Linked DNA regions of Homo sapiens. The protein of the gene in region 2 purifies or fractionates together with the protein of the main gene of each other region. This does not show direct contact. Each region holds a gene or a part of one and is shown on either strand. Other genes may lie near its edges.

The links.
Region 1: the proteins of MYO1E (region 2) and PPA1 fractionate together in Homo sapiens (co-fractionation; one large-scale study listed by BioGRID). This does not show direct contact.
Region 3: the proteins of MYO1E (region 2) and ARL14EP purify together in Homo sapiens (co-immunoprecipitation; one study listed by IntAct). This does not show direct contact.
Region 4: the proteins of MYO1E (region 2) and PLPBP fractionate together in Homo sapiens (co-fractionation; one large-scale study listed by BioGRID). This does not show direct contact.
Region 5: the proteins of MYO1E (region 2) and ISOC1 fractionate together in Homo sapiens (co-fractionation; one large-scale study listed by BioGRID). This does not show direct contact.
Region 6: the proteins of MYO1E (region 2) and KIF22 purify together in Homo sapiens (affinity purification with mass spectrometry; one large-scale study listed by BioGRID and IntAct). This does not show direct contact.
Region 7: the proteins of MYO1E (region 2) and CTDSPL2 purify together in Homo sapiens (affinity purification with mass spectrometry; one large-scale study listed by BioGRID and IntAct). This does not show direct contact.

The regions. Positions count from the first base shown.
Region 1 is NC_000010.11:70,208,580-70,213,302, forward strand, and holds part of PPA1 (inorganic pyrophosphatase), read right to left. Parts: intron 1,107-4,723; coding exon 979-1,106; intron 712-978; coding exon 626-711; intron 1-625.
Region 2 is NC_000015.10:59,222,372-59,227,094, forward strand, and holds part of MYO1E (unconventional myosin-Ie), read right to left. Parts: intron 2,453-4,723; coding exon 2,318-2,452; intron 821-2,317; coding exon 688-820; intron 1-687. UniProt on the Homo sapiens protein: Actin-based motor molecule with ATPase activity. Unconventional myosins serve in intracellular movements. Their highly divergent tails bind to membranous compartments, which are then moved relative to actin filaments.
Region 3 is NC_000011.10:30,332,293-30,336,325, reverse strand, and holds part of ARL14EP (ARL14 effector protein), read right to left. Parts: intron 3,461-4,033; coding exon 3,333-3,460; intron 1-3,332.
Region 4 is NC_000008.11:37,776,136-37,780,858, reverse strand, and holds the end of PLPBP (pyridoxal phosphate homeostasis protein), read right to left. Parts: intron 2,887-4,723; coding exon 2,755-2,886; 3' UTR 1,091-2,754; downstream 1-1,090. UniProt on the Homo sapiens protein: Pyridoxal 5'-phosphate (PLP)-binding protein, which may be involved in intracellular homeostatic regulation of pyridoxal 5'-phosphate (PLP), the active form of vitamin B6.
Region 5 is NC_000005.10:129,100,847-129,105,569, forward strand, and holds part of ISOC1 (isochorismatase domain-containing protein 1), read left to right. Parts: intron 1-4,109; coding exon 4,110-4,229; intron 4,230-4,338; coding exon 4,339-4,542; intron 4,543-4,723.
Region 6 is NC_000016.10:29,800,122-29,803,911, reverse strand, and holds part of KIF22 (kinesin-like protein KIF22), read right to left. Parts: intron 3,739-3,790; coding exon of another isoform or gene 3,690-3,738; exon of another isoform or gene 3,110-3,689; intron 1,144-3,109; coding exon 975-1,143; intron 514-974; coding exon of another isoform or gene 464-513; coding exon 304-463; intron 1-303. UniProt on the Homo sapiens protein: Kinesin family member that is involved in spindle formation and the movements of chromosomes during mitosis and meiosis. Binds to microtubules and to DNA. Plays a role in congression of laterally attached chromosomes in NDC80-depleted cells.
Region 7 is NC_000015.10:44,513,839-44,518,561, reverse strand, and holds part of CTDSPL2 (CTD small phosphatase-like protein 2), read right to left. Parts: intron 3,965-4,723; coding exon 3,902-3,964; intron 3,798-3,901; coding exon 3,718-3,797; intron 1-3,717. UniProt on the Homo sapiens protein: Probable phosphatase.

The DNA.
Region 1 (4,723 bases), on a different chromosome or scaffold from region 2:
CAGCCTCCTAAAGTGCTGGAATTACAGGAATGAGCCATATAGCACCCAGACAAATGCCAACTCTTAGGACTGTACATTTTTACACATATAACTCTTCTCCATTTTTCTTCTGTTTGTTGGAAGGACAATGTTTTCATTTTATAGGACATTATCCTGACACAGAATAGAAGATTTCTGGGAGAATTATTTTTGTACATTGGCTGTTTCTCGTACTCTTTTTTTTTTTTTTTTGAGACCGAGTCTCGCTCTGTCGCCCAGGCTGGAGTACAGTGGTACGATCACGGCTCACTGCAGCTTCAACCTCCCCAGGCTCAGGTGATCCTCCCAACTCAGCCTCCCAGGTAGCTAGGACTACAGGTATGTACCACCATGCCCAGCTAATTTTTGTACTTTTTGTAGAGACAGGGTTTTTCCATGTTGTCCAGGCTGGTCTTCAACTCCTGGGCTCAAGCAATCCATCCACCTTGGCTTCCCAAAGTGCTGGAATGACAGGTGTGAGCCACCGCACCCAGCCTTGTATCTCTTTTCTAAGTGAAAGTAACAGTACAGTGTCTTATGATTATTAAAACCTTTTCTGCAAGCTGGTCTGCTTTGTGTGTTAAACATGCAAAGTGTTTACACTTACCAACTGATTCCTTTTCCATTCGTTTTCTTAGTCACTAATGCTTTCCAATGGTCATGAGTGCTTTTAATAATATCAATGGCAAAGTCCTATAATTTGAAGAGGTTTGCATTACAATGATAAAAAGGTATTATTTTCCTATTATCAACATTTCCCCAAAGCCTGATACTTTGTCTCTTCTGAATCATTTCCTTATTCTAAAAATGGAAGAGAATATTAAAGTGAATAAATAAACACCAAGACTGTGTTATGTTTCCAGACTTCTGTTTTGTGAATCTTTAGATGGTAACAATATGGTTAAATTATGAGTCTCAATACAAATGAGCCTAAAGCTACAGTTCTGAATGACATATTACCTTATCTTTAAATTCTGCATTAAACGCAAACTCATTTTCTGGTTTTCCATCAGGAACCTTATACCTTCTAAACCAGTCCACAGTAGCTTCTAAGTAGCCAGGTTTCAGCCGTTTGACATCATTGATATCTAAGAAGAGAAGAAGCATAAGATGACAGTGAGAATGATTTTTTTAAAAAGAAAGAAGAGAATAAGCAGATTTCAAGATGCACAAATAATTATACACTCAACAAAAATTCCAAGTACTTATTTTGAAAGAGCTGTGGAATGACTTATCACGGAAGTTCAAGATAACATTGGAGCGAAGCCCCTTGTTGAGAAGAGAAGCCATACACATATACATTGAAAGAAAATCATCTAGTATCTCTGAATAGCTCTGACACTAAGTACAGAGAACAATCAGTACAATAGTAATCTCTGTTAGGTAAGGGCAAACAGCTGGTGGCTACATAATGAAACAACCAGTTTGGCAAATGTAGATAATTCCTATGAGAAGTGTACAAGATACTGAAAAAGACAGAGGTTATCTTTTTTTTTTTTTCAGAGACAAGGTCTCGCTCTGTCACCCACGCTGGAATGCAGTGGCCCGAACAAGGCTCACTGCAGCCTTGACCTCCACAGTTCAGCGATCCTCTCACCTCAGCCTCCTGAGTAGCTGGGACTATAAGCATGCACACGCCCAGCTAATTTTTAAATTTTTTGTAGAAATGGGGTCTCGTCATGTTGCCCAGGCTGGTCTCAAACTCCTGGGCTCAAGCAATCCTCCTGCCTTGGCTTCCCAAAGCACTGGGATTACAGGCTTGAGGTACTATCCCTGGTCCAGAGGCAGAGGCTATGTCAGAGGATCACAACACTATTACATACTAAAAGATAAGAAAAATAGATTAGATTGATATCCATTGATGGGTTACGTATTAAATGTGACTAGACTTTGCTGGATAGTACAGGCACTGTACATAACAATACTTTAGTTCTGGCTGACAGAAAAGTGCACTGCTTTAAAAATTTTAAGTTTCTGTATAGCCATCAACAATGGCTAGCCTCAATGTTATCAAACTGCACTTCAAATAACAAACTCCTGCTCAATGCAAGCAAACAGAGATACACATCCTAAAAAGTCAGTTAGGAAAAGTATTATGAGGAAGAGAAATACATTCAACAATAACAAAAGCTTATTTATATTTGTATAAGATAACATTGCTTCACTCCAATTTATTTTTTTTTTTTGAGAAGGAGTCTCGCTCTGTCTCCCAGGCTGGAGTGCAGTGGCGCAATCTCGGCTCACTGCAAGCTCTGCCTCCCGGGTTCACGCCATTCTCCTGCCTCAGCCTCCTGAGTAACTGGGACTACAGGTGCCCACCACCATGCCTGGCTAATTTTTTTGTATTTTTAGTAGAGATGGGGTTTCGTGTTAGCTAGGACGGTCTCGATCTCCTGACCTCATGATTCGCCTGCCTCGGCCTCCCAAAGTGCTGGGATTACAGGCGTGAGCCACCGCGCCCGGCCGCTTCAATCCAATTTATAATCTGCATAAAGAATAGCATGCATTCTATTATCATAATATCACTAAAAGTATGGAAACTTTACAGAATGCACTGGGAAATGTTTAAGCACTAGTAAATTTCAAAGAACTTATAATTTACATGAAATGTGTCACCTGATATAGAAATAATTTGGAAATCCAGAAATCCAACATGCAAATGTTGATGTTTTCCAATAACAGAAACTAATTCTCCAATTATTCAGACACCAACTGAGTGCTCAGTAATTCACTGTGATTCTGATACTATCTACCTGGAGTTAGCATCAGATCTCAAAGGTTAGGGGCTCAGTCTCACAAGACTGCCCCACTTCAGATGCCTCCTGTACTTTTGACTATCAGCTATAAATTAGGGGTTTCTACAATCCTCTCCCCAGGTCCCCTAATTTGCTAAAATGGTTCACAGAACTCAGGAAAACACTGAAGTTTAAATTTCGTTATATAAATACAACTCAGGGACAGCAAATGGAAGAGATGCACAGGGGCAAGCTATAGGATGGACAATAGACACTGCCTTAGGTTGACATTAGGGAAAGCTGCATACTACTTGCGCCATGGGACCAGCCACCCCGAGAAAGTTTTCAGGGTTCTAATAACCTGAACTGCAGGAAAATAAAGCCTTAGTAAATGAGTGCTGACAGAGTGATGGGCTTGGCTTCACTAATTGTGGCCACAGCATGCCAAGTTCTCTTGCATAAGAAGCACGTTGGAAATGCACACACGGACCAACAGAACAGAGCCGTACTACCAAGTAGTGAACAGATGGTGTGAATGCACTCTCACCTTTCAAAATTGAAACGAAACATTAAAGGATTGGCATTCTTCCAGTCCTTCTTCAATGAATTAACACAGATGCAAATATACATCACATCATTTTGAGGGAACATGCTCTCAAGGTGACTCTTATCACTGCTGACATTGACCTCCATCACCTGGCTGAGGCAGTGTTTGTCAAGTTTCTCTGCTCTAAAGTCATCCTCTCCTCTCCCTTACCCACACTGTACTCTTTGGAAGGAAGTCACCAGGCACAACTCACAATTAAGGACCTCCTTGAGAATGGAGTATCTGCATAAATTATTTGGAATTCTTCTGCTTTGAGATTTGTCTATTCTTCCTCATTTGTCTATTTATTCAATCATTTATTTGTCAGTATAGACTCATGGAGATTTATTTTATGTTCCAGGTTATATTACAATACTACTTTATTTTCTTGCTCAAAGTGTTCTAGCTTTGGCAACTCCTATGTATGTACCCAATAATAAAAACATAAGTCCACACAAAAACTTGTACAGGAATGTTCATGGCAGCATTACACAGCCAAAACAACCCAAATGTCCATCAACTGATGAATGGATAAACAAAATGTAGTATATCCACACAATGGAATAATATTCAACCATAAAAAGGAGTACTGACAGATGCCACAATATGCAATATGGATAAACCTAGAAAACATTATACTAAGTGAAAGAAACCAGAAACAGCAACAACAAAGATCCATATATTGTACCAGTCCATGTATATGAGATACCTAGAATAGGTAGAATAGGCAAAGCTATAAAGACAAAAAGCAGATTAGTGGCTGCCAGGGCCTGGAGAGGAGGAGGGAATAGGGAATGACTTGAACTAGTGGTGATGGCTGCACAACCTTGTGAATGAATGAAATGCCACTGAATTTCACACTTTAATTAAAATGGTGAATTTTATGTTATGTAAAATTTACCACCAAAAAAAAAAAAAAAGGGAATGAAGTGCTGATACATACTACAATACGGATGAATCCTGAAGACACTTACTTCGCTAAGTGAAATAAACCAGACACAGAGGCCACCTATATGATGCCATTTACATGAAATAACAGCATAGGCAAATCCATAGGCACAAAGTAGATCTGCAGTCATCAGGGACTGAGGGAAGGGGGACAGGGAGTGATTGCCCATGGATACAGGATTTCCTCTGGGCTGATGAAATGTTCTGCAATTAGAGAGTGGTGATGGTTGTACAACTTAGTGAATATACTAAAAACCACTGAATTGTACATTTTACAATGGTGACTCTTTGATATGTGAATATCTCAATTAAATGTTTTAAAATAAATAAACATACCAACTGAGTGCTGGTATGTGGGGAAGGAAAGGACCAAAAAAACAGTAAGAACCTACCAGATTTTTTCTTTCCTGGAATGAAGGAGAAAGTTTACTTAGTT
Region 2 (4,723 bases):
CCGCTGTATTTATGGTAGATTTTGGGCACATGTAACCAGCAGCACCTCTCTGTAGGAAGAACCCTGATTTTTTTTCTCAAAGAGTAAAAACGACCATTTAGGTGTTGAGGCTCCAGGTATACAGATGTGATCATTAAAAGTGATCATCAGAAATGTCAACACAACAGTCAATGTCCATCTTTTTCTGTGTTCAGAAATCCAATGTAATCCAATCCATGGAACAAACTGTGAAGCTGTGAGCTTCCCATATTTACATATATTATATTGCTTGCTCTTTAAAACCTGTAAGTGAATTTAGATCCTAAAGACCAGTTACTGAAAAGGTTTTGATAAAGACAATAAATCTTTTGCATTAAGCCATTACTCTAATCCCCATTAAAGAGATCACTTTATCTTTAAACCAAGGTGTGAAATCCTCCCAGCTTTCCCCAGGTTAATGATAAATTGAAACGATTCCATTAATAATCGATGGTGTGGGACTTGGAAAGGCTGGGGGTAAGGACAGGGACAGGTGCATAGAAGAGGTCTGGTCTCTCGTGAAGCCATTCTGTTTGCCACAGAGGACATGTAGATTTATCACTTCTTCCCAATATTCCCATTTGAGATCTAAGCAAAGGAAAGTGCTAGGTTACTTCTAATCAGAGCTAGCCACCCCTCATTCAATGGCCACATGCCAGGGCTACGCACACTCTTCACTCTCCACAGCCGCGTAGTTGCCAACTTCTTTGAAGCTGATGTTTCCCAGGTGGAGAATACCCGCCACTATCTGCAACACCAGCGTTTGCTCTTCTGCAAAGATCCCAATCACATTCATGGCGTGCTGGAAGAGAAAAGAGAAACTATCCAGAGAAGCTGGTCACCAGCTTTAAAAGCACCTTAGGAAGAAGCCAAGGCACAGCAGCTGCTCTAAATAAGGATGTGACAAGTACAGACGAGTTACAAAGAAAAAAAAAAAAAAAAGCCAAAACATAAGATTGGGTTGTGCAGTCACATGTGGCTTAGCTTGTGATGACAGCAGGACGTTCTTGTACAACATGGTCACTGCCCAATGCACACATTCTTCTCACGTCTCAAAGTCATGCTGGAAGGGCACTTCTGTCTCTAAGCATAGCATGCCATCCTCCAGGAATAAGAGAATACTCCAGGAGGAAAGAGACTCGGAAGAGTGGTAGTTGTACACAAAGTCTCCAAGTCCTGTCTTCATCCTTTGATGTGTTCTTGTTGCCAGCTTCCCCTCGAAGGTCGCTGCTGACCTTTCCACCTACTCAAAGTGGACTCGAGATCTTTCCCTTCATCAGGAGGGATAAGAATATATTGTACTTGCAAAAGGATCTTAATGAAAAATCTCCAGGAAATCCAATAAAAGCATCATTTAAAAGTCCAGTTTCTGAGGTCCCTTAAATGCAATAAATACCGCTAAAATGTCTAAATCTTAAGAGAAACATCTCCTAAGAAAACTACACTCTAGGACCAGTGTGCAGACTCCTTATTGGCACTTTTCCCCGCAGCTGCTTTGAGGCCATGTGACCTGTTGATACCATTTTGTTTCCTGGCACCCAGGACACAGTCTGTTTGAACTTTCTGTCCCTTTCAACCACAAATGTACTGAACCCACGCTGCTCATTCAGAGTCTACTGCTCAGTTCTGGATCTGGGTTGAGGAATAGTCCCCAGCTTGAAACAGACTCAAAGGGCAGTGGGTGGCAATGAAGGCCTTTGAGGCCAAGTGGGTGTTCAGCCTACCTCCAGAAAGTTCTACATTATTGCCCCCAGGATGGAACCCCTCCATAATCTACCTAGTTTCACAGCTTGGACCATAACATACATGCAATGTGAAGGGCATGGCACAGAAAAAGGGTCCTCTGCCCTAAACAATACAGAGGGGAAGAGAGTCTTCAAAACCAGAAAAGAAATAAGAGAAAAGACTAAAGACGTTCCAAAATGTCTAAACCTATTCAGTCCATAGACGTGCGGTTTGCTTAGCTTTTCTAAGGAAATAGCTCACGAATAGAGTAGGCCATCAGCAAACAGGTATGCTCAACGTATGAATCATTTTTGCCTATTTATCAGAGCTCCTGCAGGGTGATAATGATGAATTCATTTCTTTTTACCCATCTCAAATCATTAAGTGGTCCTCAGGCAACTGGCACATGGCTGTTTAAGGATACTGAAACATGTATGAGCATACAGAGTGCTCACAGAGAAAGAGGCGGACATTTCATGCAGCTCTTTGCTTTATTAACCTTCACTGCCCTTTTGGCCACAGGAAATGGCCAGTTGGGAGAGCAGATCCTGCCTGGCCCTGCGCCAGCACTTACCAGAGTTTCCTGAAACTCCCGCCTGTCGTCAATGTCATCAACCTTGTATGAGCCCGAGAGGCTCAGGTAGTAATAATAGTCCATGCTGGTGATGCCAAGGCTGTGTTTCTGCTCTGCAGAGGCGCCCTCGATGAGCTGGAGCAAGAGAACACAGGTTGAGCCATGATGTGGACCACAAGGCACCCGAAGTCACTCCTGCATCCTGCAGCCACCATCCCTAAGGACTTTCTATCTCTGCTTTCTAAAATTACAGGCAGTCCTGGCCCCCAAATATGTACTTGTAGTAGCCCCAGGTCATCTCTGCAAATTTTGATTCCTAACTCTGGAAAGACCTGCAAGAGCTGAGGATTTTCCATTGTCCACTGAAAGGAACTGGACTGCCACCCTCGGAAGAGTGGAAAGCAAAACAGATTTTAATTACTTAGTTCCTGCCCAACTTGCTATGGCTTTTTAAGCTGGCTTTTCCATGTTTCTCACTGCAGGGTGCATGTTAAAAAACTGCCATGCAGCTTCCTGCTCTCTGGTACTCTTTGCCTTCTTTAGAAGCTTTTCCTTGACTGTGAACTTCTCCAAGCTGCAGGATCTACTTCCTTGCCATGACATAACCACTTGCATTCTAGCTTCTCCCCTCACCACTCTGGCGGAACCCTTGCATGGCTATTTTTCAGTGCCTAAATCCAACAGCCTTTTTTTTGGCCCCCACACCCCAGCTCGTCCCTTTTGCCCAAGAGCTCTGACCATTTGATCCTGTCGATGTCGCCCTGAGGCTTCCCTGGCTTGGTGACACTGCAGGATCCTGGCTTTCCTCCTTATCCTTCAACTACTTCCCTGCTGGCTCTTCAATGCCTCCCGATCCTACATATCTAGAAAGTCCCCTGGTCCTGTGTGGCAGGATTTTCTCCCCACATCCACTCCCAAGTATTTCGTAGCTTCAAGAATTTCTTTTTCTTTCTTTTCTTTTCTTTTTTTTTTTTTTGAGACGGAGTCTCACTCTGTCGCCCAGGCTGGAGTGCACTGGTGCGATCTCCGCTCCCTGCAAGCTCCGCCTCCCAGGTTCACGCCATTCTCCTGCCTCAGCCTCCTGAGTAGCTGGGACTACAGGCGCCCACCACCACGGCCAGCTAATTTTTTGTATTTTTAGTAGAGACAGGGTTTCACTGTGTTAGCCAGGATGGTCTCGATCTCCTGACCTCGTGATTCACCCACCTTGGCATCCCAAAGTGCTGGGATTACAGGCGTGAGCCACCGCACCCAGCCAAGAATTACTTTCATGTCAGAATCTTGAACCCCTGCGCCCATCAGTTCCCAGCCTCTATTCTGGTGGTTTCTGACTTAAGGGCAGAGAACTCCTGGGGGAGGGTTGGGGCTTGCATTTATTTAAAGAAGTCCTGACATCCATTATACACTTCCATCTAGCACTGGGTATTATTTATGTGAAATATATAATTATTTTTCACTTATCTATATATGTTGCTTTAATACAATTTTAAAAATGACTGAATTCACAGAAGTTTTAATCATTTATATACTTTTTCAACCAACAGGTACAAACTAAAAGAATTATTTGGCATTGCCTAAGATGTGTGTGTAATTGAAAAGATTGAATGTGAGCTACTTCCACAGTTTAATGTCCTTCTAATCCAGTGATCCACAAACTAAACACGAAATGAAACAAAACAAAACAAAAAACAGTGACCAGGTCTTTCTTCGAAGAAAGTCTAATGTGGATCTTCAATATAAAATACTAATAAGTAAATAGAACATAAAAAATTTGGTTATTAACATCATTATATTTTTTAAGTACTTAAAAACCTTTTACAAAAGTACCTGAATCAGGGCCAGGTGCAATGGCTCACGCCTGTAATCCTAGCACTTTGGGAGGCTGAGGTGGGTGGGTCACTTGAGTCCGAGAGTTAGAGACCAACCTGGGTAACATGGTGAAACCCCACCTCTACGAAAAATACAAAAATTAGCCAGGTGTGGTGGCATGTGCCTATAGTCCCAGCTACTTGGGAGGGTGAGGCAGGGGGATCATTTGAGCCCAGGATGCAGAGGTTGCAGTGAGCCAAGATTGTGCCACTGCACTCCAGCCTGGGCAAGAGAGCAAGACACTGTCTCAAATAAAAAAATAAATAAAATAAAAGTAGCTGACTCAGATGACTGCTGAAGCCTGTAACATAATCAAAAAGCACCCTGCAAGCTGCTCTGGCCCCAAACTCTCCATGACTTCTGAGGGTCTAGGTGGCAACTTTTCAATTTGGCATTAAAGATCCCAAACCTATCTCAAATCTTTCCTCCGGTAGCTCACGTTCTGGAGACGCCTGCCCTGCAGGCAGGCTGAGGCCGGGCTCCCTGACTGGCTTTCCCTCTCCCACCTCCACTGCTTTGGTGCAGGTCACCTGTCTT
Region 3 (4,033 bases), on a different chromosome or scaffold from region 2:
GAAGTGCATAATTTTCCCTTTACTTTAAACAAACAAAAAAGAATGACAGGTTAATAGTGGTTCACTTTATTAGCTACCAACCTCTTCACTGTTTTATCAACACAGTTTTATTTTTATTATAGTATACCACCTCTATAGATTTTTATACTACAATTAATGTTTCTTGTTCTTTAATGGACTCTAGTAAATTTGGCCTAAAAATATTTAAATGACTCAATGGTAAATTTTAACAGATGGAATACATGGCATATATAGAAATGTTGACTGAACTTAGAAAAAAAATTCTGAATGATTATATTAACATTTGTTTTAGAGTCATATTCTAAACAATTTAGTTCTCCCATTCATTATGTTGACTATACAGAACTGCATTTCTATTTCAGACATGTAAAAAATAAAAACCTTGCATTCTCATAAAATGTAATTACCTTTTAGCTGCTACCCATAGAACGGAGATATATGAATTACAGGCACATTTCGGAGGTATTGTGGGTTTGGTTCCAGACCACCCCCAATAAAGTGAGTCACACACACACACACACACACACATATATATATATATATTTTTTTGCTTTTCCAGTGCATATAAAAGTTAAGCTTACACTATAGCCTATTAAGTGTGCAACAGCCTTATGTCTAAGAAAAAAATGTATGTACCTTAATTTAAAAATGCTCTATTGCTAAAAAATGCTAACAATGATCTGAAACTTCAATGAGTTGTAGTTTTTTTGCTGGTGGAGGATCTTGCCCCAGTGAGGACAGCTGACTGATCAGGGAGGTCGTTGCTGAAGGCTAGGGTAGCTGTGGCAATTTCTTAAAGACTACAGTGAAGTTTGCTGCATCAGTGGACTCTTCTTACAAAAGATTTCTCTGTAGCATGTGATGGTGTTTGATAGCATTTTACCTACAGTAGAATGTTCAAAATTGGAGTCATCCTCTCAAATTCTGCCTCTGCTTTATCTACTAAGTTTATATAATCTAAGTCCTTTGTCATTTCAGTAATGTTAACAGCATCCTCACCAGTAGATTCCACCTTAATAAATCACATTCTTTGCTCATCTCTAAGAAGAAACTCCTTATCCATTCAAGTTTTATCACAAGATTGCAATAACTCAGTCACATCTCCAGGCTCTGCTTCTAATTCTAGTTCTCTTGCTATTTCCACCACGTCTGCAACTACTTCCTCCACTGAAGTCCTGAACCCCTCAAAGTCATCCATGAGGACTCGAATCTTCTTCCAAACTCTTGGAATGGTGAATCCTTTCCAGAAGGTGTTCAATTTACTTTGCCCAAATCCATCAGAGGAATCACTCACTGTCTATGGCAGCTCTGGCCTCACAAAACGTATTTCTTAAATAACAGACTTGAAAGTCAAAGTACTCCTTGATCCGTGGGCTACAGAATGAATGTTGTGTTAGGAGGCATGAAACATTTATCTCCTGGGACATCTCTATCAGAGCTCCTGAGTGATCAGGTACATTGTCAATGAGTAGCAATATTTTGAAAGGAATCCTTTTATCTAGGCAGGAGGTCTCTCAAGTGGGCTTAAAATATTCAATGAACAATGCTGTAAACAGATATGCTGCCATTCAGGCTTTGTCCCATTTATACAGGACAGGTAGAGTACATTTAGCATCATTAGGACCCTAGGATTTCGAAGAGGTAAATAATTGGCTTCAACTTAAAAGTCACCAGCTGCATTCGTCCCTACCAAGAGAAACGGCCTGTCCTTTGAAGATTTGAAGCCAGGTATAGACTTCCCCTCTCTAGCTATGAAAGACGGCATCTTCTTCCATTAGAAGGCTGTTTGTTGGCTGGGCGTGGTGGCTCACACCTGTAATCCCAGCACTTTGGGAGGCCAAGGTGGGCAGATCACGAGGGCAGGAGATCGAGACCATCCTGGCTAACATGGTGAAACCCGTCTCTACTAAAAATACAAAAAATTAGCTGGCTGTGGTGGCACGTGCCTGTAGTCCCAGCTACCCAAGAGGTTGAGGCAGAAGAATCGCTTGAACGCAGCAGGTGGCGGGTGTAGTGAGCTGAGTTTGCGCCACTGCACCTCAGGCTGGGTGACAGAGCAAGACTCCATCTCAAAAAAAAAAAAAAAAAAAAAAAAAGAAGGCTGGTCTACATTGAAAATCTGTTGGGTAGTGTAGCTACCTTCATTAATAACTTGCTGCTTCACCTTGCACTTTTATGTTATGGAGATGGCTTCTTTCCTTACCCTCATAAACCAACCTCTGCTAGCTTCAAACTTTTCTTCTGAAGCTTCCTCACTTCTCTCATCCTTCAGAGAATTGAAGAGGGTTAGAACCTTGCTTTGGATTAGGCTTTTGCTTAAGGGAATGTGTTGTAGCTGGTTTGATCTTCTATCCAGACCATTTAAAGTTTCTCCATATTAGCAATAAGGCTGTTTTGCTTTCTTATCATTTGTGTTCAATGGAATGGTACTTTTAATGTCCTTCCTGAACTTTTTCTTTGCATTCACAACTTGGCTGTTTAGCACAAGAGGCCCAGCTTTTGGCCTGTCTCAGCTTTTGACGTGCCTTACTCCCAAGCTTAATCATTTCTAGCTTTTTTTGTAAAATGAGAAACTTGACTCTTCCTTTCACTTGAACACTTAGAGACCATTGCAGGGTTATTAGTTGGACCAATTTCAATATATTTGTTTCTCAGGGAATAGGGACACCTGAGGAGAGGGAGAGAGTCTAGAGAACAGCCAGTAGGTGGAGCAGTAAGAACACCCACAGCATTTATCGACTAAGTTCACCACCTTGCATTAGTGTGGTTCCTAGTGACTCAAAATAATTATAATAGTAACATCAAAGATCATCATAACAGATACAGTAATGAAAAAGCTGGAAATATTGCAATAATTACCAAAATGCGACAGAGATAGGGAGTACATGCTGTTAGAAAAATGACACCAATAGACTTGCTTACCACCGAGTTGCCACAAATTTTCAATTTGTAAAAATAAATAGCACCTTGTAAAGAATAAAGTGAAGCACCAATAAAATGAGGTATGTCCGTATATATATAATAACAATGCTTTTCAAATAAGTGAATTACTTTAATTGTAATTATTTTAACTCTCATGCCAAAATTATTTCTTCAGTTCACTGCTACCTTCTTAGAAACAAATTTTTGTAGTTGAAAGGGATACCTTAATTTTATATGAATAAAAACAAAGGCCTTCATAGGTTTTTACTAATTCTACATTATCCAATTTAAAATATGAACCCAGAAAATTCAAAATTTAAGAGAAAAATAGGGGAACAATGCAGATGTGAAGCAGCAAGTTAACATGTCTTCAGTAACACTTAGCCTACCTGTCTGAACCAGCGGTTGCATTTTTTGTAAGCCTTCTTTTTTCTCTTTTACCAGTTTCTGGAGCAAATTCAGTTTGCCTTCCTGGATTCGTAAATTGTAATGACCTCAAAGCTTTAGCAGTTCTTCCCTGAAGAAAGGTAAACAAATTATCAACTCAAATCTTGACAACAGACAACAGATTAACATTTTATTTAATGTTAAACCAGACGATTCCCTAACATGGAAGACAGTCTGGAACACACAAAAAAGAAAACAAGGTTTTAGAGCCTAAGTGCAAGAAAATTTACATGGCCCTAGACCATATTCAAAGCATATTGGTTAATGTATTAGTAACATTTCCATTATTTTATTTTAGTCTCTGGTATATTAGGAGCAGAGGAGGAAGGCATTGTGAAAACTGCAATGGCTGCTGCCAACACAGGAGAGAAGGCACAAAAACTGCTATATAATCCAGTGGCACATAACTGATTTCCTAACAATCCTGGGTCCTTATTATTGTATTTTATATATTTTTAAGAGCAGAGAATATGATTTCAAGTTCTAGAATAGTATTATAATCTTTTTGAAAAGTTTTGGTGAAACAAAATTTCGGTGTTTAAGGGTTTATGTTTGTTATTTGGGGAGGAAAGAGCTGCAGCTGATATATTCTACAAGAACATTGGATAGATAAGGTGAAGACATCTACAATGACACTATCAGC
Region 4 (4,723 bases), on a different chromosome or scaffold from region 2:
GAGAGAATATAGAGAATAGTGCTGCATATGCCATCAATGTTAAACAAAAGGTGGGGGGTACCATTTGAGTATTAAGAGGTTGCTTTAAGAACTGTGATAGAATCTGTGAGGAGCTCCCCAAGAGATCAAAGTCTTGATGGACTATTGGGAGGTTTTGTGGCGTCTCAAGCCTTCTGAGGCTGGCTTCAGGGCAGACAAGGGCCCAGCGCCTTCAGAGACTGTGAGGCTGCACAGGTGGGCCCAATCCAGGAGAGCAAGCCGTCCAAACTCCAGGAACTGGCTTTCATGAAAATCTGGAAGAAACCCAACCTGCCACCCATCATGCGTAACGAAAGACAAACTCACAACCTGGCTCAATTTTCTCTCTGCAAAATATCCCATCCTGCTGGGGACACCCTAGACACACTTTGGTGTCCTTCCCTTATCTAGATCTGATTGAGCCTTCCCTGGCTTTCCTCCTTATTCGCTGTTTTTGTTTTGTTTTGAGATGGGGTCTCACCTTGTCACCCAAGCTGCAGTGCAGTGGTGCGATCTCAGCTCACCGTGACTTCTTCCTCCCAGGCTCAAGCGATCCTCCCACCTCAGCCTCTGGAGTAGCTGGGTCCACAGGCATGTGCCACCATGCCCAGCTAATTTTTGGGCGGGGTATTTTTGGTACAGACAAGATTTCACCGTGTTGCCCAGGCTAGCTGGTATCGAACCCCTGAGGCTCTGCAAGTCACACTATCACTTGAGAGCGTCATGTCCTCTCTGGCCTCCACCAGACTGAGTAACCAGGAGTCCCTCATAAGGTAAACTACTGACAGTGGAGAGCCAGTGCTTGTCCCTCAGGTTAGCCAATGTCGCCATCTAGAGGCAATTCAAAAGTCTCTTGCAGTGAGGGGTAACTATTTTTGTAATTCTTGAAATGTCCTTTTTCTTGCCCTTAGAAGTTCAGAATCCCTCTCACCCATGGTGTAGCTTTGGCTGCGTCTGTGACCCCAGGGAAGCCCTCCTCCAAAGCCAGGCTGGCACAATGCCAAGGCACCAGCATAGCTGCTTCCCGTCGGTTCCAATGCCCCCACCTGTTATATTCAGTCACTACACCAGATCATAAAAAATAAATCTTTTAATTGCTTTGTAATTGGCACAGATGGTGTAATTCAAACTCACATTTTTATTTAATAGACTCTGAAATATCACACTGTAGCTCTCACTGAAATAATACAGGAATCATAATGTTTAAGTTTACAAAAGTACATTTGGCAGCATCATGATGTTTTGAAAGTTACCTGTAAAATCAAAGACTGGGGCTTCAAAAAATAAGAGAAAAAGCCATCTGGAAAATAAAAAACAAGCCATACTGAAGCCATTTGTCATGACTATTAGAGAATGGTGTTTTTGGGTTTTTTGAGGATCTTGCTACTTTATTAATGATCCAGAAGAGTTGCACAATTCTGGCTTGTAAATACAGTGGGGAAGCTGTAACTATGCCTGGAAAGTGCTCCTCAGGACAAGGAATGTCAAAGCCAGGCTTTGTTGAAACCATGTGCCTGAAAAGGCTTTGAAGGAATCTTTCGTTTCTTAGGAGTAATGAGATTCACTGGGTTTTGATTTAAAAAATCACCCTAAAGAGGATTATAGTGGAGGAGATAATCATTAAATTCTCATCACTGTAGGTCCCAGAGGAAAAACGCAAAGTCCTGTCTCTTCAGGATGATGTCAGAAAGGCCCAAGTCCTCCTTATGTTATCCTTTAATTTCAGGGATAAAACAGAGTGGCAGTGACACAAGCTCTCACTACCAAATTAATTTTTTTTTTAAGAGACAGGCTGTCTCTAAAAAAGTTGGGGGGTATTATCTGCATATTAAAAGGTTGCTTTAAGAAATGTGACAGCATCTATGAAGAACTTCCCAAGAGATCAAAGCCTTCATGGACTATTGGGATTTTTTTTTTTTTTTTAAGGCAGGAGTACAGTGGTGCAATCATAGCTCACTGCAGCCTCAAACTCCTGGGCTCAAGTGATTCTTCCATTCTTCCACCTCAGCCACCATGCCCAGTTAATTTTTAAATTTTTTTGTAGAGACGGGGGGTGGGGCTCCTGCTGTTGCTGAGGCTGGTCTTGAACTCCTAGGCTCAGGTGATCCTTCCGCCTCTGTCTCCCAAATTGCTGGGATTACAGGCATGAGTCACCATGCCTGGCCAGCAACAATTTGTGTTTTGAGAATTAACCTGAGCCATTTCCTGAAGCTACCTACACTGCCATTCCACAGTTGGGAATATCTTCACGTATCTACCGGCTAGGGAAGAATCTGGGGGCAGAAATCACCTTATTCCAGAGCAGCAATTTAGACGACGTAGTAGGAGTTTGTAGGGAGATGTTAACCATAAGGAATTTTCCTATTAAAATGAGATGAAAAAGGGGAATCCCTCTGACTTCCACGATTATAGGCATCAGTGACCAAATTTTAACCTGGAAAAGGCATTCATGGATCAGTTCATGCTCCTGGGCAGAATTCAATATTGAACATGATTCCTAGCTATTGATTTGGTATCTGTTCTGCAGAAATGTTTGAATTTCTCAAACTCAATCCAAAGCCATTGCCTGAAGCAAGCTTCCTATGTCAGAGACTAAGCACAGATGGTTTCCATCAACACACGTGATCATTAGTGCTCTCCACAGGTCACAGGAGAGCAGGACTGCGCTGGGACACAGGGAATATCGAAATGAAAATCTAGGTTAGTGCATAGTTAGTGCTCTCAGTATTCCCTGGCTCAGTGCTCCTGTGCCACCTCCAGCGGGGCCTTCACGTCTGCTGCGCACTTGTCCGGGGTGGGTTTCTTTGAGTAATCCCGCTCTCCAAAAATCGTGCTTCCTATTCGGACATTTGTAGATCCTACTTCAACCTGTGGGAAAAAAGAGAAGGTATCGAGGACCAGGTTTAAAATAATAAAATGGAGCCAGTGCTGAAGCTGTGCCCCCATTCTGGCTCTCAAGAGCCTTCTATGGACGGGGCGTGGTGGCTCACGCCTGTAATCCCAGCATTTTGGGAGGCCGAGGTGGGCAGATCACGAGATCAGGGGTTTGAGACCAGCCTGACCAACATGGAGAAACCCTGTCTCTATTAAAAATACAAAATTAGCCGGGCATAGTGGCACATGCCTGTAATCCCAGCTACTCGGGAGGCTGAAGCAGGAGAATTGCTTGAACCCAGGAGGTGGAGGTTGCGGTGAGCAGAGGTTGCGCCATTGCACTCCAGCCTGGGCAACAAGAGCGAAACTCCATCTCAAAAAAAACAAAAAAAAACAAAAACAGAGCCTTCTATGAATAATAACACAGCTGAAGATGGCTTCAGGATGATTGTTCTCCTCAGAGGTAAAATTGCCTCTGAGGGCATATATAGGAAACAAGTTGGGTTTCTCTGGATTTCCAGTGGTTGGAGAGTGTGGCTGGCACTCAGCTCGGAGGGGGTCAAGGACATTAGACGTCCAGTGTGAGACGCAGCCACACAGCACAGCCCACCTACCTCTCCAATGTGCCACGGTCAGGTAGATGAAAAAAATATCCTTATAATTATCTGATCAAATTCCATTTTACTTATCAATGCAATGTATTTTTGCACTGTTTTAAGAAATACAATTTTCCAGGAATGCAAGTTTATATTTTGATTTTTGAAACTTTATCAAGTTATTTGCTATTTCAGAAAATCATGTATTTGCGTTGCCAATCTAGCACACCTGTATCAGTTGATATTTACAGCTGTTGATGTACATATAAGATTGTTGGTGAATCTACACATAAGATTAAGCCTCGGACGGGTGCAGTGGCTCATGCCTGTAATCCCATCACTTTGGGAGGCCTAGGTGGGTGGATTACCTGAGGTCAGGAGTTCGAGACCAGCCTGGCCAATACGGTGAAACCCTGTCTTAACTAAAAATTCAAAAATTAGCTGGGCATTGTGGCAGGCGCCTGTAATCCCAGCTACTTGGGAGGCTGAAGCAGGAGAATCACTTGAACCTGGGAGGTGGAGGTTACAGTGAGCTGAGATCGCGCCACTGCACTCCGGCCTGGGCAATAGAGCGAGACTCAGTCTCCAAAAAAAAACAAACAAACATGAAGCCTTAGGCTGCTTCATCGTGATTTGCTGTGATACAGCCATGCCCACGCACTTACGTAATGAAATGCCTTTCCAAAAATTATAGCTTAATTTCTTATTTTCCTTTAGACTACACTTATGGAATTATGTTTATAATTTATGAAATTATAATTATAATTAATTTCTTATTTCCTTTAGATTACACTTACGGAATTATATTTTGTTTTAAAAGTTCAGATGTCAGGCTATAATTTCTATACATTTCTTTTCTTTCTTTTGTTTTTTTTTTTTTTTTTTTTTTTTTGAGATGGAGTCTCGCTCTGTTGCCAGCCAGGCTGGAGTGCAGTGGCGCGACCTCGGCTCACTGCAATCTCCGCCTCCTGGGTTCAAGCGATTCTCCTGCCTCAGCCTCCTGAGTAGCTGGGATTACAGGCGTGCGCCACCACGCCCAGCTAATTTTTGTATTTTTAGGAGAGACGGGGTTTCACCATGTTGGTCAGGCTGGTCTCGAACTCCTGACCTCGTGATCTGCCCGGCTCGGCCTCCCAAAGTGCTGGGATTACAGGCGTGCGCCACCGCACCTGGCTCTTTTCAAAAAAGAAAGGGCATGGGGAATGGGAGATGCTGGAATAGCTGACACTGGGTAC
Region 5 (4,723 bases), on a different chromosome or scaffold from region 2:
AGTTCCTTTCTGTTTGTAAGGTATAGACGTTATTCCCCCAAATATCATAGCATAGGGAGGCCATTAAAAAAAAAAAACTAACTTTTTATTTTAGAATAGCTTTAGATTTACAATAAAGTTGTAAAGATAGTACAGAGAGTTCCTATATTCCTGTACCCAGATTCCCTATTGTTTTTGTTTGTTTGTTTGTTTGTTTGTTTGTGAGACAGGGTCTTGCTCTGTTGCCCAGGCTGGACTGTAGCCTCGACCTCCCGTTCTCAGAGGATCTTCCCACCTCAGCCTCCTGAGGAGCTGGGCCACCAAGCTCAGCTAATCAAAAAAAAAAAAAAAAAAAAAAAAAAAAAAAATATATATATATATATGGTTGGGTTGGGTGTAGTGGTTCACACCTGTAATCCCAGCACTTTGGGAGGCCAAGGCAGGCAGATCCCTTGAGCCCAGGAATTCAAGACCAGCCTGGGCAACATGGTGAAACCCCATCTCTATTAGCAGTACCAAAATTAGCCGGGTGCAGTGGTGCACGCCTGTAATCCCGGCTACTTGGGAGGCTGAGGCACAAGAATCGCTTGAACCAGAAGGTGGAGGTTGCAATGAGTCGAGATCACGCCACTGCACTCCAGCCTGGGCGACAGAGTGAGACTCTGTCTCAAAAAAATATGTTTTGTAGAGACAAGGTCTCACTGTGTTGCCTAGGCTGCTCTTGCAATCCTGGGCTTAAGTGATCCTCCCACCTTGGCCTCCGAAGTGCTGGGATTACCAGCATGAGCCACCATGCCCAGCTGGATTCCCTAACATTAACATTTGATATTCCTGCAGTACATTTGTCACAACCAAAGAACCAACATTGGTACGTTACTATTAACTAAACCACACTTTATTCATATTTCACTAGCTTTTCCCTAATGTCCTTTTTCTGTTCCAAAATCCAAACTAGGATACCAATTACATTTTGTTGTCTTGTCTCCTTTGGCTCCTCTAGTCTATAGCAGTTTCTCAACTTTGTTTTTAATGACCTTGACAGTTTTGAGGAGCACTGGTCAGATATTTTGGTAGAATGTCCCTCAATTTTGATTCATTTGATGTTTTTCTCATTGTTGGATCGGGGTTGTGAAATTTCAAGAGGAAGGTCACAAGGGTCATTCTCATTACATCATATCAAAGGTACATGTTATTAACATGATGTCATTAATGACATTAATCTTGATCACCTGGCTGAGACACAGTCGTCAGGTCTCTCCATTGTAAAGTTACTCTTCCCCCTCTATACTCTCCTCATAAGAAGCAGAGTACTAAGTGCAGCCACATTCAAGAGGATGTTGGGAGTTAAACACCTTACATAGATACTCTCCACATCATATTCAACAGCATGTGGAGAATGTCTATGAAAGGTAGGGTATTTTTTATTCAGTAAATTGTAACCTGTACTCTGCTTTAAAAACATGCCTTGCCACTGTATTCTCTATGGTTTCTTTGTTTACTGAGTTTGTGGATGGTAAGTTCCTATACTAGAGAGATTTCCCAGGGCAGTGAGGATTTTAGGGCTGTATTTTTGACCTCCTCAATGTGTGTCTAATATGACACATCTGATGCAGTCCCCTGTCCAGAACCCATAGCTAAAATGAAGGGCAGGAAACACCAGCTAGCAAGAACTGGAGACCACAACTCTGGATATTAGGATTCCTGGGTAGGTAAGGATTTATTCTTTTAAACACCTCAACTTAAAAATATCTTGACCATTTTATAATGTAGTCCTTCTGAAATATATAATTTAACAGTTTTCTTAATGAGTGTGCTGGAATGATGTTTTCCTAATTTATAAGTTAGAACAGCTTTTTACTCTTCCACTGGAGGTCTAGACTGTAGCATTATTTGAGTTTTGATCTGTTTTTATTGTATTTTGAATCTTTTCTCTGTCAGCCATCATTTCTTGCTGCTATCAGTTTGCCTGCCTCCAGCAGTTTCCTTTCTGATTTGCTGTTTATAGCCTTCTGTTAATTTAGAATCCAGACAATGAAACTTGTTAGGAATGTATACAGAGGTAGTCAATACAGTATAAAATAGGATCTGAGAGCTGGAATTCTAAGCAAGTGTAAGCTCTAAGCATGTTAGTGAATGGCCTCCACCACATTTACGCAACTGCCCAGGAATTTTATTTTTCAAATTTTTTTTTGTTTTTGCTGGTTCTCACCTGTTGTGAAACGGTGAGACTGGCTTACTTGCATTATGGTTATTTCAGTAGGCCTGCTGCAGGCAAACTGCTTTATGTAGTGTGCCCTAAACACATTGTGGATGCCTACGAGTCCATGATTCAAATTTATAAAAATGTAGATATTGAGCCTTTTGAGTCAATATTTGATGTTTACAGAGAATTTAGTGATTGGTTTTTAAAATAGTATCCTAAATGCACAAAAATTAGCCTTCCCAGCAATGCATTTATATTTGTATATAAGATCCTAGTCACTGCTTTTGAAAATGACCAAAGCAGAGGCATAATACTTGCATTTAAAATTAAGCAAAGAAACAGCCAAAGCTAGAACATATAATATGCTTGAGAATTTATTTTAATCATGCTTTATTGGAAAAGTAGGAAAACCCTATACATAGAGTAAGAATTACAGATGGCTCTCACATTCTAACATGAATTTGGTATTGGATTGTGCATAGCTAGTTAATACACATCTATAGAGTCAGTACCAGAGGGAGATTAAAGTGCCAGGGTACTTCAGACCAGGACATAGATAAAACAAAGTGCAAACCAATTAGAACAGTTATATCATTAAGGATTAAAGATTTCTTAATGGTTAATTTAATTCATGTAGTAATTGTTTCCAGAGAGTCAACCCCTGCAGAGATACTAAGGAGAGTCTAAGGCTGTGTTGGTGGTGAAGCCACACCATGTAATCCAGACACAGACTCCTTTAGAATATTATTAATAATAGTTATCTGTAGGTGGTTTTAGGGGAAACAAAGTAGGATAATTAGAGGGATGATTTAAGGGAGCGGCTAGTAAGGGTATTGATAATGGTTCATTCAGGACCAGAACACATCCTTTACAGTACTTCCTGCAATTTGCAAAAGAAAGAAAAGCACCTCAGACTTTTAAGAATCCAGTGAGAGTAAATTCTCATATTTAATGGTGATTTTTGCTTTTTGGTGGATCCATATTGGGCCCAAATTGTTATAGACCAACTACAGCAGCTAATATGAGGTTTGGTAATCTAATATCCACTTTTCATCTTAATTCATTGACTTTCCTTATCGTGATAACTATAGTTTAAGAATGGAGATGTCAAATATAGGTCTCTTCCTTGTGAAGTAAACGACAGTTCATTTAACAGCAGTGGTGTGCTTGGTATCATTTCGTTGCATTTTGTTTGAACTCTAAAAATTATTCTTGAGAATAGCATTTTCATATTTCTGTCTTGATGATAGCAGTAATTCTGGATTTGCTTCTGTCTGTTTTTTGTTTTTAGTTTTTATGTTCCTGCTACAGATATTTTAAGTTTTACTTTTTATACTTACAAGCAGCAACATCAGATTTTTTTTCTATTGTAACACTTTTTCTGATTATAAAGAAATTTCTTTAAATAACATTCAGGAAATGTGTTTAAATAACACTTGGAAAATATAGGAATGGTATAAAAAAAGAAATTACCAACACCCCAATTATATAACCACTTGTTAATATTGTAATGTACTACTACTTTTATTCATATTTTTACATTATTGAAATACTATTGAACTGCACTTTTTAAAAATTAACATTATGAGTATTTTTCCATGGATGGTATGAATTCTTTGAAGACATATACATATGTTTTTTAATTGGCTAAAAAATGTTTTGTCATGTGAATGTGTTAAAATGTGTTATATCATATCTGTATTGTTGGCTGGTTCATTTCTAATTTCCGCTATTAAAAGCAATTCAGAGAACATCTTTTTGAGTTTTTTTTTTTCCTGTAATTCAGATACTTTTTTTGGATAATAGCGGTAGAAATTGACTTACTGGCTCAAACAATAGGACCATTTTTCTTCCTTTATTGACCTCCACTGAAAATAAATGTCATTGTACAACAAGTGCTAAATCATTCTTTTTCTTTTTTCCTCAGCTCACTACCCTGGGAAATCTTACACCTTCAAGCACTGTGTTTTTCTGCTGTGATATGCAGGAAAGGTTCAGACCAGCCATCAAGTATTTTGGGGATATTATTAGCGTGGGACAGAGATTGGTATGCTTGTTTACTTATTTGGTCATATTTGCTGAATCATCATATACACTCATATATACACATATATGTATATAGCTAATTGTTTTTGTGTTTGGTTATTTTTTTTCAGTTGCAAGGGGCCCGGATTTTAGGAATTCCTGTTATTGTAACAGAACAATACCCTAAAGGTCTTGGGAGCACGGTTCAAGAAATTGATTTAACAGGTGTAAAACTGGTACTTCCAAAGACCAAGTTTTCAATGGTATTACCAGAAGTAGAAGCGGCATTAGCAGAGATTCCCGGAGTCAGGAGTGTTGTATTATTTGGAGTAGAAGTAAGTACCTGTTACTATCATTTAGGCACAATATTATTTATAGAAAACTCAATATTTGTGGAATGTAATTTCATATATGGTATGCCAGGTAGGCAGTAATAATGAGGAAAGGTAGCCACCATGTATTATGTTCACTATTTGCATGGCACTGATCTGAACATTTTATAGCTGTTTATTTATT
Region 6 (3,790 bases), on a different chromosome or scaffold from region 2:
CCCCAGCTCCCCTCCATCCAGAGTTAACCTGTTGTGTTTCCACATGACCTTTTTTATACCCGCATTTAAAGGAATTTCAGTCAGTCTTGCATTATCTTCAATCCTCTACTCGTTTGTCCATCCCACTGTCCTAAACACCCGAGGGCAGAGCACCCCCAGCACTGCCTCAGAGCCTCCTCACCCCTCCCTGGGACTGGTATGTGGTGGGAGAATATGAATGACATGGAGACAGCTGCTCCTAACACTTCCTCCCTTATAGGATCTCAGCTGCCTTGGCCCCCCAGCCCCTGGAGTCAAACTTACTTAGCTGTAGGGGCATCACCACAGCCTTTTTCAGGGGCTTTGCCCCTGTGACTGTGCGATGTGAAAGGGGCCGGAGCATTGTGGGACAATGGTTCTCCTTTTCCTCAGCCTTCTGGGCCAACATCTTGGCCTCCAGTTCTTTTTGCTTCGTCTTAAGCCTCTGTTGGAAAGGATCAGGGAGATGTGATCCAGACCCAACTCCAGGGCAGCCTGAAGGGAGTGGGTTACCAGGGTGAGTATGCAAGGCTCTGAGCCCCCAGAGGGCAGGGCTAGGACCAGTGGGAGGTTACCAGGAGACAGGTGGAGCCTAACATAATTAAGGGCTTTCTGTGATTAGGGGGCTACCCAGAGGTGGAACAAGCCTCTGCAAATATTGAAGGGAAAGGCTTTTCAAGCACAGTCCTCAATTAATTGAGCTGGGCTTTAGGAAATGTAATGTTTAACATTTGTTGCTTTTACTTTGAACTTTTTCTTCTCACCCTCACATCTGGTCTCAATTGTCTGTCAAAGTTCAGCCATGTTAAGGACATTCAAGCAGAAGCTGGAGAACTTCCGGTATTGGGAGAAAACTGGACTCTAGTCCAGCCTGAGTGTCCTTCCCTGTCTGAAGATCCAAGGATTGCTTCTCAAGGCCAATAGGAATCCAGCTCCCACATCCCTAAAACACGTACCTCAATCTCTAGGTCCTTCTCTTCCACTGTCTTCATTAGCACCATCCGCTCTCGCTTTGGGGTACTCAACAGAGGGGCCCCCTGGCTCCCCTGGGAGGCAAGCAGACGGTCCAAGCTGAGGAGGCGCTCCAGCATGGCCGGGTCCATGCTGCTTAGCTTCTGTAGGGGGCTGAGCAGAAAAAGAAGTTGCTCCCCACCTACCTCCTCCCTCATCACCACCTACAGCAGCAGGACTCCCCTCACCACACCTTAACTTGGTATATCCTGTAGCTCCAGAACCTAATGTTAACTTGCTAGGCATCCAGTTTCTCTGGGTGCAGTGTCTTCATCAGGTGAAGTGACTGCTCGGGGATGCCAGGAAATCAGGCGAACACTTGAGTGCCAGGTATGAGAGACCTAAGACACTGCCCTGCCCTGGAGGCACTGTCTACTGAGGAAATCAAGAGACCATAATAAGGTGACAGCCAGGACAGTGCCTATCCATTTGGAGGAGCAGTTGCGGAAAACATCACAGAGGATGCCATCTTTAGCAGGGCTTTGAAATCCACCGAAGACCTCAGCTGCCAAGCTTCCCTGCTGTGGGCAGCTGGGAAGGCCTGTTCAAGCAGTCCTGACTGACTCTGAGCACGGTAAGGCTTAACATTCTTTTTTTTTTTTTTTTTTTTTTTTTGAGACAGGGTCTTGCTCTGTCACCCAGGCTGGAGTGCAGTGTTGAGATCACAGCTCACTATAGCCTTGGCCTCCTGAGGCTTAAGCAATCCCCCTGTCTCAGCCTCCTGAGTAGCTGGGTCCACAGGTGCATGCCACCATGCCCAGCTAATTTTTTTATTTTTTGTAGAGATGGGGTCTTACTATGTTGCCCAGGCTGGTCTTGAACTCCTGGGCTCAAGTGATCCACCCACCTTGGCCTCCCAAAGTGCTGGGATTACAGGTGTGAGCCACTGCGCCCAGTCAGCAACGTCTAACATTCATTTATTTTGCCTGGAATCTTGCCCCACACCTCCTCACATCTGTATCAATAATCTTTCCAGGTCAGTTTGATGCCACCTTTCCCATGACGCCAAGCTTAACAATGCATCTCCCTTCCTATGCTGTGAACTGGCTCCTGGAGGACAGGGACACTCCTGTGCTTTCCATGCTAGTGCCTTGGAAAAACAGGATCAGAACATACGTGGGCAAACACTAGAAGTCATCTCTTCCTTCCTGACTCTCACAGCAGCAGCAGCTACTCCTTCCTGATTCTGAATTCTCCACCTGGTATCATATACTGATGTTCCCATCTGACTTGCTCTCCTGTGAGGCCCCCAAGCTCTGGGTCTGCTGGGTTTGATGTGCCCAACTCTGAGCTTCCCCTTACTCAGAGTGCCTGTCTGACAGCTTACCTGTGCACATTTCTGGGTGCACACAGCAGTGGGGAGTGCTGACAGATGGTTTGGGAAAGACAAGACTGAGAGATGGGGTCATGAGTGCACAAGCATCTTCTTGTGTGTGGCATCTTCCTTAACTACAGTAGCCCCCTGGGACAGAGTGGGCACTAACCCTTGGCCACCTCAGGTCACCTCTGTTTAGTAGTTCACAGGCTTTATTTGGGCTAGGGGTAGAAACAGGGCAAAGTTAAAACTGCAACTGGCTCCTGGGGGGTGGAGGGAATAGCGCAAGGGCTAAGTGGCCAGACACAGAAAGCAAGACCCCTGAACAGAGATGACCTGAGGATTAGTACATACTGGGCCATGAGGTGGGGTGATTGGAGTTGGGGCAGGAGGTGACACAAAGGACTTAGTTTAGAGGCTTTATCTGGATTGAGGGTAGACGCAGTTAGGACAGCAGCTGGCTCCCCGGAGAGTCATGGAGAAGCTGGGCACTGACACACAGACCAGATGGTCTCAGCAGGACAGCTCTTCCAAGTCTCCTTTGCTTTGCTCTCATGGATCTGAAAGATCTGATCCAGATCACTCCTTGAACCAGAAGCAAAAATGCTCATCCTTGAAACAGCTGTCCCAAAGTGAGAAGTTTTGCTGAAGGCTAAAGGGGTTGGAAAATGGAAAGGATCCCCAGGAGGAGGCCTCCTTAGGTCCCCAAGGCAGCAGCACTGAGGAGAGATTAATCTTAGACTTTAGTGATTCAATGGAGTAGAATTTGGGGGGAATTTATTTATTTACTTATTTATTTATTGAGATGCAGTCTTGCTCTGTCACCTAGGCTGGAGTGCAGTGGCATGATCTTGGCTCACTGCAACTTTCACCTCCCAGATTCAAGCAATTCTTCCTGCCTCAGCCTCCTGAGTAGCTGGGATTACAGGTGCCCACTACCATGCCTGGCTAATTTTTGTATTTTTAGTAGAGATGGGGTTTCACCATGTTGGCCAGGCTGGTCTTGAACTCCTGACCTCAGGTGATCCACCCGTCTTGGCCTCCCAAAGTGCTGGGATTACAGGCGTGAGCCACCGTGCCTAGCCAGGGTTGAATTCACTTATTTACTTTGAGACGGAGTCTTGCTGTGTCGCCCAGGCTGGAGTGCAATGGCCACAATCTCAGCTCACTGCAACCTCTGCTTCCTGGGTTCAAGGGATTCTCCTGCCTCAGCCTCCCAAGTAGCTGGGATTACAGGCACATGCCACCACATCCGGCTACTTTTTGTATTTTTTAGTAGAGATGAGGTTTCACCATGTTGGCCAGGCTGGTCTCGAACTCCTGACCTCAGGTGATCCACCCAACCTCAGTCTCCCAAAGTGCTGGGGTTACAGGAGTGAGCCACCGCATCCGGCCTAGGGTGAATTTAATGGGAGAGGAACAAGATCACAGCTCTCTGCTCAAGGA
Region 7 (4,723 bases), about 15 Mb from region 2:
AAGGTCCTAAGACCAAAACATTCCATCATTTCAACTTTTCCTAAACACCCCTCTTTTAGTATATGTGTATGATCATTTGAAAAAAGATTAAGTGAAATGAGGAATTCAGATTTAAGTATCAAGTATTATAAATGTAAACTGATATTTCACTCACATAGAAAAATACTACATCATTTTAGAAAGCTATTAAAGGTTTTACAATACTAAAGTGATTATTATAATCTCAATTTATACTCAAAATACTAGTCTCTGAACATTACTAATAATTGTTTCATATAATTTTTTTCTACCTTGAAGTACTCTATTCTGTATATATTAATAATTGGTAAGTTGTCTTCCTTGTGTCTTAATCACACTAACAATTTTACAAAATCTAGGACCTATTTGGACCTGTATTTTAAATTATGCAATTTCAAGAAACTGGTATTTTCTACCCACAAAATCTGTCACAGTGCTACCAAGAATAAATAAAAATCTACATATACACACACAAATAAAAACTCAACCTTAAAATTATCAGTGCCAGTTGGTATGGCAAAAAGGAAGAATTTAACGAACAGACAAAATGTATAAGCAGTTCTTTCCCCCTTATTATAAGGAATAACTTTAATAATCACAGTCAAACGATCATCTGGCCCCGGGAAAGTTTAGTCAGTTCTACTTTGAAAAAACAACAACAAAAAAGACTAAGTAAATTAATTCAAGCCTTGGTTGGGCCTAAATAAGATTCACTGTTTTATTTCTATAAACATTTAGATATGAGGAAACTGGAAAGGCAGATACAGCATGTAAATTCAAGTCACTGTTGATGCCTCTTCACCGATAGTGGCAAACTCATTGAGACAGGAGACAACTGAATCTGTACGTGGATACTACAGTTATTTTAATTAAATTACAGTAAAAGCCTTCCAATTATTCATTCAGGAATCTGAGGGTGTATAGCATGTATTTGCATTTTTAGAAAAAAACTATTTGTACCAGTCATCAAAGAGCAGATCATCCATGTGAGTACAGACTTGTGTTAGAAACTCATGAGATTTAGAGATCACAGGAATTTCTTTTTTTCTTCTTTTTTTTTTTTTGAGACGGAGTCTCCCACTGTCGCCCAGGCTGGAGTGCAATGGCAGACTCTCGGCTCACTGCAACCTCTGCCTCCCGAGTAGCTGGGATTACAGGCGCCTGCCACCATGCCCAGCTAATTTTTTTTGTATTTTTAGTAGAGACGAGGTTTCATTATGTTGGCCAGGCTGGTCTTGAACTCCTGACCTCGTGATCCGCCTGCCTTGGCCTCCCAAAGTGCTGGGATTACAGGCGTGAGCCACGGCACTCAGCCTAGATCATAGGAATTTCTTAGAGTCTACCTTGTCACCAACACAGACAATTCCCTATAGCACTCACAATCTACTCTTTGAAACGCTTTTGTTGGCCAGGCGCGGTGGCTCACGCCTGTAATCCCAGCACTTTGGGAGGCCAACGTGGGCGGATCACGAGGTCAGGAGTTCCAGACCAGCCTGACCAACATGATGAAACCCCGTCTCTATTAAAAATACAAAAATTAGCTGGGCGTGGTGATGCGCGCCTGCAATCCCAGCTTATCAGGAGGCTGAGGCAGGAGAATCGCTTGAATCTGGGAGGCCGAGTTTACAGTGAGCCAAGATCGCACCACTGCACTCCAGGCTGGGTGACAGAGCAAGACTGTTTCAAACAACAAACAAACAAACAAAAAAACAAGCTTTTGTTTCAGATTTCTCAAAATACATCTAGATAGAACAAATGGAAACCCTCAAGTGTGTAGGTTTTATAAATCTAGTTTAAAAGAGGATTGTTAATTTATAACACATTGTCATAACATGACTATCATTTGTTCCTCATTAGTAAATGAAAGCTCCAAGAGGGAAGAGCTTGTGTTGCTCACCACTGTTCCCTGGAATACTGGAGATGCTGAACAGAAATCATTATAATGAATGAAGTCATCAAAACAAAATCACTGGGTATACTTTAGTAAAGTGAGGTAAAATTAGCATAAATTACAATATACTTTTGTGAACAGAAAATACCATTTCCCATTTGTGTGACTGCAGCTTACTTATTTTGACCCTTTAGATTAAAAAACAAAAGATACCACAGCTTTATTTAGAATAAAAAACCTTCCAAAATATGAACATTAGGAAAAGCCTTTCAGTATACTTGCAACCACTGAATAATAAAGGTACTGTTAACAGCAGAAAATACACTTTAGGATTTTCCAGTAAGACAACATGGGAAAAGTATTTAAGAAAATTTATACTCAGCTGGGCTGGGTGCAGTGGCTCACGCCTGTAATGCCAGCAGTTTGGGAGGCCAAAGTGGGTGGATCACTTGAGGTCAGGAGTTCAAGACCAGCCTGGCCAATATGATGAAACCCCATCTCTACTAAAAACACTAAAAATTAGCCAGGTGTGGTGGCACACACCTGTAGTCCCAGCTACTCGAGAGGCTGAGGCAGGAGAATCTTTTAAACTCAGAAGGCAGAGATTGCAAACTGCACTCCAGCCTGGGCAACAGAGTGAGAATCCGCCTCAAAAAAAAAAAAAAAGAAAAAGAAAGAAAGAAATAGAGAAAGAGAGAGGAGAGAAAGAAAGAAAGAAAGAGAGAGAGAAAGAACGAACGAACCAACCAACCAACCCAGCTATTAAAGTCTTTTTTTTTGAGATGGAGTTTTGCTCTTGTTGCCCAGGCTGGAGTGCAACGGCACGATCTCGGCTCACCATAACCTCCGCCTTCCGGGTTCAAGCGATTCTCCTGCCTCAGCCTCCCGAGTGGCTGGGATTACAGGCATGCGCCACCACGCCCACCTAAATTTTGTATTTTTAGTAGAGACACGGGGTTTCTCCATATTGGTGAGGCTGGCCTTGAACTCCTGACCTCAGGTGATTAGCCAGACTCAGCCTCCCAAAGTGCTGGGATTACAGGCGTGAGCCACCGCGCCTGGCCCTATTAAAGCTTTTATGAGCCGTTTGTGTCATCTCTCTCAGCTTTTGATCAAAAATTCAAAGATTAACCCCTCCTCTTAAAGGATACAGCAAGACTGCTGCAGTCTTACTATCTCACTTCAGCTGACAAAATAATGGAACTAATTATCATAATATTTTAAAATCACCACGGCACTCCCACTAACCAGGAAAACACTGCATCTGCTGGCTCAGGGCACACACAAGGAACTGAGTCCAGTCAGGATAACCTGAGTGACTAAACCCACTGTAATTTCCAATCAGATTCATGTAACATTTTCTTTCCATGGAAGATAAATTTGCTTTCAAAAAAAGCAAGGGCTTAATTTGATCCTTTCTGTTAAAAAATAATTTTTATTTCTCTATGCCATTAAAAAGTAAATTAACATGCATTACCTCAGAGACATATGGAGATGAAACATCATGCACAACGTGGAAAAATTCCACACAACCCCCCCAACCCCCGTCTTCCCCAATCCCAAAAGAAATGAGGATATAGATGTCACAGTGAATAAAGGCACTGGATCTTTGTATCCTTTAAAGAACGTCTGTCTGGAGTTCCATCATTAGGAACTCTTTTAAAGAGTTTAGGGGCTTAAAAAATTCATTTATATTCACCATTCAACACATATGCAGCCAACTGAAAATGGCCATTAAAATGAAATAGAATCAGTAATTTCATAGATCAGTGTGACAGACATTTCCACTATTTCTTAATTAAATTTACCTGACCAGTTGCTTTTTAGGGTCTAGTATGTTCAGTAACTTGTCTGCATACACCTTCTTAGAAGCAGTAAAAAGAATGATCTATAAATTCAGGGGAAAAGAAGTAATCATTATACATGGTCTAAATATGGGTACTATATTGAATAAAATAAAAATACATATGTAATTAGCTTAAGCATGTTTACCTCATACATCTGAGACATTCGTTCCAGGAATTCCCTGAAAAATGGTCTTAATCTCACATAAACCTAAGGAAATACAAAGATAAGTTTCAGCAAATAAACATACAATGGGAAACCACTTCTTTTTAAGATGTGCTGTATTCTAACTTTGATTATAATGAAAAAGTTCATGTTTTAAAGTATAGAAATATTAACTAAGTACCACTCAAACCAAGTATATTTCACATACAAGCGATCACTTAAACCAATCTCTTTGGTGGGATAATAATAATCACTGATGATCAAGTCATTTTTACTAATAGCAGCATACAGTACTTCACTGGTATGTAATTTTAATAAACATTTAAGCTAAAAATGGAAAGTTTCCCTCTGAGATTTTGATCCACCAGTAAGCTCCATCTTCCAGCCAGGTAGCATCCATCCAATTATTGTGTCCACCTCTAGCTGACCTGTCTCAATGACCTTCCTCAATAATTACTCAGAATTCCTTCAAACAACCACCTGCTAAAAATATCTCTATTTTAAATTTATATCAAGGTAAATTATATTCAAAAGGAGACGTCTGGATTGATGGGTTTAAATAACCTCAGTTTTTCAGAAATCAATCTTCCTATTCTACATTTAATGACTCAGATGTGGCATCTAAATTAGCACTATTGGCTACTTGAGATTAAAATTATAACAGTCAAACACAACAGTTCTCAAAACCTACTGGTCAGTATCAGAAAAGACTACAGTACCCACAGAACTGCTTTACATACATTATTTTCTTATTTCTGTGTCTCTCTTTGCCTACATTTAATATAGCTCCTATAATCTAATATT